Homo sapiens: one gene and its partner. The protein of the gene in region 2 purifies or fractionates together with the protein of the main gene of each other region. This does not show direct contact. Each region holds a gene or a part of one and is shown on either strand. Other genes may lie near its edges.

The links.
Region 1: the proteins of SCN1B (region 2) and CNTN1 purify together in Homo sapiens (affinity purification with western blotting, with the first as the bait; one study listed by BioGRID). This does not show direct contact.

Annotation. Positions count from the first base shown.
Region 1 is NC_000012.12:40,936,939-40,940,438, reverse strand, and holds part of CNTN1 (contactin-1 isoform 1 precursor), read right to left. Parts: intron 2,870-3,500; coding exon 2,752-2,869; intron 1,105-2,751; coding exon 954-1,104; intron 1-953. UniProt on the Homo sapiens protein: Contactins mediate cell surface interactions during nervous system development.
Region 2 is NC_000019.10:35,033,470-35,036,969, reverse strand, and holds part of SCN1B (sodium channel regulatory subunit beta-1 isoform a precursor), read right to left. Parts: intron 3,472-3,500; coding exon 3,231-3,471; coding exon of another isoform or gene 2,872-3,230; exon of another isoform or gene 1-2,871. UniProt on the Homo sapiens protein: Regulatory subunit of multiple voltage-gated sodium (Nav) channels directly mediating the depolarization of excitable membranes.

The sequences.
Region 1 (3,500 bases), on a different chromosome or scaffold from region 2:
CCTCCCTTGTTTAAGACTTTAAACAGATTTATATTACTCTTAGATGAAGCCCAAGCCCCTTAGCATAGAAAACTTTGTCATTTATGATGTGGCTTACTATGTCTCATCTCTTAAAAGTCTCCTCCATTTTCCTCTAAAGACAAATCACACTGATTTCAGTTTCTGCAATTTCTTACACATTCTAAACTCCTCACCATAGGGCCTTTGTACATGCTGCCCTCACATTCACATACACCCTCACATACACCCTCACATACACCCTCAAGCCAACCCACACATCCCATCCCTCCCATTTCCCATCCTGGCTTTCTCCTCGTCATAATTTTTGCACTCAATATTACTTCTTCTAGGATACATATAAACTATTCAGTGTGGCTTTTATACAAATAATCTATATAAGTTGTACACTGCTTTTTCATTTTGTCCCCAAACCACCAAAACATTGGTAGATGGTCCATTTATAAGGAAGATGATGATAACATCTTGTTCATTTTGAGATAGGAAGAGATTATTTGCACTTTGAAATCACCTTTTTATTTTTCTACAAAAATATTTAATAGGCTAACTGCACAAAATTCAGTTGAATATGAATGGATATAGATGCCAGATGCCTATACTGGGGAAAAATATGTTAGAGAGATCCTACTTTATTTCCCATTGTTTATTAGCTGTGTGACATTGGGCAATTTATAACAACAAGACAACAAAAAAACACCTCTGAGCTTCAATTTTCTAAATTCCTTATACATTATAGAGTCCTGTTAATTAAACCTTCATTATAATAGATACTGACAGGGATAGGTATTTCTGTCCATCTTAGAACTACAGGATCTTCTGTGAAAAAAAAAATTCAGAGCAAAAAACATTTTCATTATTAACATATAAACAAGTCTTCTATAAAATAAACTTTTTCAAACAGATTTTGCAATTGGATTTCTAGTTTCAGCACTGACCTGCTGCTATTGACAAGCCACTCTGTCCCTTTACTCCATGAAAACTTTGGTTTCGGTGCAGCTTTAGGTTTGCATTCAATTATCACCCTTCCACCTTTAGCAGCCAGGATCTTTTTCTTCATAGGATTCATTTCAAAAGTTGGAGCCAACGCTAAAAAGAAAACAAATTGTTATCTTTCTCTTTCTGTTTGTAAAGCCTAAACATTGCTTCTGTGTTGTAGAATCTTTTATTCTCCTTAATAGTTAATGGAAAGGATTAATCTCGGTAAATATGATCAGCTGTCACCAATAGGCATTCTATACCTAATGCTTTGTAACTTTTATTTAATAACTTTGACTTATAAAATTCACCCAATTCAAATGTACAATTCTTGATGATAACTGAATTGATTATTAGAAACTTTAATTAGAATCCAGGCATGGGTGGCTCACACCTATAATCCCAGCAGTTTCAGAGGCTGAGGTGGGCAGATGGCTTACCCAGGAGTTTGAGAGCAGACTGGGTAACACGGCAAAACTCCATCTCTACCTAAAATACAAAAAAATTAGCTGGGCATGTTGGTGCATGCCTGTAGTCCCAGCTATCCAGGAGGCTGAGGTGGAGGATCACCTGAACCTAGAAGGTCAAGGCTGCAGTGAAGCGTGATCGCCTCACTGCACTCCAGGCTGGGCAACACCGTGAGACCCTGTCTCAATAAATAAATAACTTCAATTTCAATCAAATGTTTTATACACATTTACCTTAAAATTAACTCTGAATTCTGTTGCTTTGACTCAATTCCACAAGGAAAGTAAAGTGAAAGGCTGGAAAAAATTGACCAGCATTATACACACTGACATATGGTCCTAGTCAATCCTCTAAACCACATGTTGAATGAACTATTCCCAGTTTATAAATGAGAAAATTGAAATCTATTAGGATTATTTAATTTGGCAAAGGTACCACAGGTAGTAATAAGTGGGAGTCACATTTGAATCTAGGTCCTTCTGTTTCCAAAGCATGTACTTTTCATTAAACAATGCAGTCTCTCCTTCTTTATACAATTACTGAGCATCATCTGTATGCAAACACCCTGCAAAATGCCAAAATAATTGGAGTCCTGCTTTCAGGATCTATCTATAAACAGCTATGGGAATAATGGATCTAATCAACTAATTAAGGAGACATGATCATTTGTAGTTCATCATTACCTCCAAGTACAGAGCAATAATTATTAGAACAGAATACAGAGGCTTAAAAAAGGTTACTTCATTGATGTCATGCTCAGACTTTCCTCAGCATCCACACATTTAATCCACTGCTCACTCTCCTCTTCCCTTGGCAGACTCCAAGCAGATTTCATCCATATATTTCAACACATTACAATCATCCGTAACTATGTACTTTCTGGAGGCTTTTCTAGGCCTAAGCATATCTTCATCTGGGTTTTGACTCTTCATCCTCTGGTCTGGTCATTCTCAAAATTATCTTTGTATTAAAATCATCTGGGTATCTTTTTAAAGTGTCCATTCAGTAGGTCTGGGGTGAGCCTGGGATTCTGCACTTCTAATGTGCTCCTAGGTATGGCCACTGCTGCTGATGCTCTGAAGAAGACTTTTGTTGTGGCAAAGATTCATTCTATTCCATTGTTTCGTTAGTCTGAATTATGATAATTAGCAATAAATAAATCAGTAAACAACCAACATATGTTGTACACCTAACACAATACTGGGTATTTTGTGTAGGCTCAATAAACATTTTGTGTGATATGACATATTGCTTTAACAATGTTTAACAGAAATTAGAAATGATACTGACCCAAGATCTTCAACTCAGCATTTGCATAAATGGCTCCATATGTGTTTTCAGCTATGCACTGATACATTCCGGCATTTTCAAAAGTCACATCATACAGTCTTAATTCCCCTTTATGATACTGAAAAGAATAAAATTGAAACATATTCTCAATGAACTTTAATAGAAATACTTTCACTTAGGTCTGGGTTTGGTTGTCTTTTCATTTAGATACATTATGTTCATCTGCCCCCACTGTTACCTAAGATGAACTGAGTGGGATTTTCATGGCATGGGAAAGGAAAACCCACTTACCATGCCCAAAGGCTCTTGTTCTATTCATCCTACAGAGCTGAGAGTCCACCTTTTCCCCTCTTGGACCAGCTGGGAGATTACAGTGGGAAGGTAGAGAAGAATCCCACTGCTGCTACTTGTCCCCAGGGCCAAAGGTAGGACTTAGAGCTTCACTCTTACCTCTGTCTCTGTGGGGTACAGGAAAATAGTGGCAAGAAAAAGAGGACAATATCAGGTATTGGAGATGGATGAGTAGGAAGAGGGTGGAAAAGTGGAACAAAGGAAAAAAATAAGGAGAGAGAGAGAGAGAAGGTAGAGTAAGATTACAGAAAGTTGTTTAAACTGAAAGAAGATACTTTATGTTCAGTTTTTGTCTTTTTTAGGAAGCTTTTATATTTCAGGGCCCAAGTGCCCTTTCTGTATTGTCTCTCCTGCTAAATTTATCCCAGGACTACCCTGAAACACTGCTTGAACAGGGA
Region 2 (3,500 bases):
GCCTGGTCTACATAGCGAAACCCTGTCTCTACTAAAAATACAAAAGAATTAGCCGGGCGTGGTGGCGCGTGCCTGTAATCCCAGCTACTTCGGAGGCTGAGGCAGGAGAATCGCTTGAACCCGGGAGGTGGATGGAGGCTGCAGTGAGCCAAGATCGTGCCACTGCACTCCAGCCTGGGTGACAGAGTGAGACTCTAACTTGAAATAATAATAATAATAATAATAATAATAATAATAGGCTGGGCATGGTAACTTACGCCTGTAATCACAGCACTTTGGGAGGCTGAGGTGGGTGGATCACCTGAGGTCAGGAGTTCGAGACCAGCCTGGCCAACATGGTAAAACCCCGTCTGTACTACAAGTACAAAAATTAGTTGGGCATGGTGGCGTGCACCTGTAATCCCACCTACTTGGGAGGCTGAGGCAGAAGAATCGCTTGAGCCCGGGAGGTGCAGTGAGCCGACATTGTACTGCTGCACTCCAGCCTGCCTGGGTGACAGAGCGAGACTCCATTGCAAAAATAATAATAATAAGGAATGGCAGGCAGTGCTAACAAATACAGTAATATTGTGGTATTGTGGGTAATGAAAAAATACAATAGCACAATGAGTCATGTTAAAAATACTGTAGTATCAGAGGTAATGATGAATATAGTATGGTATAGAATGGAATATTTTTACATGCTACAATAGGATTAATTTTTGAAATACTATAGCATAGCATGGTGGGTAATAAAAATACCCGCCATGGTGGGGAACGTTAAAAATACGCTAGTATGATGGATTATAATAAAAATACTGTAGGCCAGGCGCGGAGGCTCTCTCCTGTAATCTCGGCACTTACGGCGGCTAAGGAGGGAAGATTATTTGAGGCCAGGAGTTCAAGACCATCCTGGGCAACATAGCAAGATCCAGTCTCTACAAAAAAAAAAAAAATTGCCGGGCGTAGTGGCTCACACCTGTAGTCCCAGCTACGTGGGAGGCTCAAGCAGAAGGATCGCTGGATTTCGGGAGTTCGAGGCTGCAGTGGGCTATGATCACGCCACAGTATCCCAGCCTGGGCAACAGAGCAAGACTTGGTCTCTTTAACAAAAAACAAAAAACTGTTGTGTTTGGCAATATTATGATAGTAAAATATATTGTGTAATATAAAATATCCTATAGTGGGTAATATAAAATACTATAATATAGTGGGTAATGTTTAAAAGGCAATACTACATATGGTGGGTAAAAAACACTAGAACTGGGTGGATAGTGCAGAAAACACAAACTCTGCAGGGCCAACATAAGGAACTGCATATGATGGTAAATGCTGGTAATAGCACAGGCTGTGGGATGTAGTGTCATACAGTGGGCAATCCTAAAAAAGAGAGGCTCAGGCCAGGCGCAGTGGCTCACACCTGTAATCCCAGCACCTTGGGAGGCCAAGGCAGGTGGATCATTACCTAAGGTCAGGAGTTCGAGACCAGCCTGGCCAATGTGGGGAAACTCCATATCTACTAAAAATACAAAAATTAGCTGGGCTTGGTGGCACATGCCTGTAATCCCAGCTACTCGGGAGGCTGAAGCAGGAGAATCACTTGAACCTGGGAGGCAGAGGTTGCAGTGGGCCGAGATCACGCCATTGCACTCCAGCCTGGGCAATAATAGCAAAACTCCGTCTCAAAAAATAAAAATCTAAATTTAAAAAAAAAAAAAAAGAGGCTCTATTGGGTCACGGCGTACAGAGGACACAACACCCTGGCCAACTGCCAAACAACAAGATGGAAAGAACCTGGGTGGCTGAACAGTGCCCTGGAGCCTCCCACCCTCTCCCCATCTCACCTCTGCAGATTTGCAAGAGCAATAACACAGGTTTTGTAAAGTCCCAGTACCGCAGGCATCTTTGTCACAGCAACTCCGCAGGCGGGGCTCCATCATCCATGTCTGCGGGTGACCCCCACCCCCCAGCATCGTGACAAACACCAGAGTGGCTCAGACATGCCTGCTGAATTGCATTCTGCTACACCAATTTGACAATAAACGTAAAAATGCTAATTATAAAAAGAAACCCACAGGCTCTGGCTGATCACAGAGTACAGTGAATCATGCCAAGAACAGAAACACAGTCACCCAAGCTCCTCTGGATTCAAGTCCAGCTCCCAATCACATGACCTTGGCCACATAACCTTCCCTCCCTGAGCCTTGGTTTTCTCATCCGTAAAATGGGGATAGGAAGAGCCCCTACCCCAGAGGGTGGGGAGAGGATTCACTAAGGGACTCCGTGTAAGGCACTGAGGCCGGCACCCATCTCACAGAAAAGATGGGCAGTGCGTGTTGCCCATGAGGATGTGTGTGCCGTGGCCCTGAGAGACCTTTCTGCCACGGCTTGTAGCTGCTTCAAGGCCTGGGCTGTTTCCCCAACTCTAAGCCAGTGGCCACAGGGCGCTGGACAATTGCAATTGATGCTGAGCAGAAGATGGATCAGAGAAGGGGCGGACCTCCCTCAGAAAAGGGGTCCAGGGTGGCTGAGGCAAAATGATGAGACGTTCAAAAGCGCTGTAGGCCCTTGCTGCTCAGAGGGTGGGCCCCGCACCTGTGGCCCTTCACTGCCTCACCTGAGAGCTTTAGAAAGGACCCCTAGGCCCGCCCCAGAGGTGTTGAGTGAGACTGCAGGCCAGCGCGGCTCCCCCGGGGCAGGAGTGCAGAGGGGTGTGCGGAACTCTGCTCTAGGTGGCACGCTCTCTTGCCTCATCACCACAGAGGGCAGCAGGGCTGAGCTACTCGAACAGTAAGAACCGCCACCCTCGCCACCACCTGCAAGGCTCTGCTGGAAGCCAGGCGTGTGCCTGCAGCTGCTCAATCCTCATGAACCCCATGATGGAAGAATGGCTCAAACCACACCCCGAGAAACACATCGGATTATTATCCCGGGCAAGCCCAGGACAACCCTTTGGCTCAGAGACAGAAGGCACCTGCCAGAGGTCATACAGCACAGGTGACAGAGCTGGGTTCTGTACCCGGAGCGTCTGTGGGGGACAGGCATGCTTTGACCTCTCCGTGGGCTGGAGAGAAACAGAGGCCAGAGCTGGAGTGGGCAGGAGGGGCTGCTCCCCTCCCCCTCAGCCCGCTGCTGTGGGCGGTTGGCTGGCCAGGCACAGAGCCAGCCTGTCCTGTCCACTGCCTGCCATCTGTCCCTCCATCTGGCTCTCCGGTGGGTGACGGTAAAGGGGCAGGCAGCACCCGACTCACCTTTGTCCACTACCTCAATGTGGATCTTCTTGACGACGCTGGTGTTGTGCTCGTAGTTTTCGAAGAAGAGCAGGCGGTAGACGTGGCACTCGTAGTCGCCCGAGTGGTTGTAGGTGACATTGGTGATGAAGATAGACAGATCCTGCAGGTCTTTGGTGCCCCGGCTGCCATTCCACACCACGCGGCCCTCGAAGCGCTCATCCTCCTCCAGCTGCAACACCTCATTCTCATAGCGCAGGATCTAGGGGTAGCCAGGGAGGGGAAGGTGTC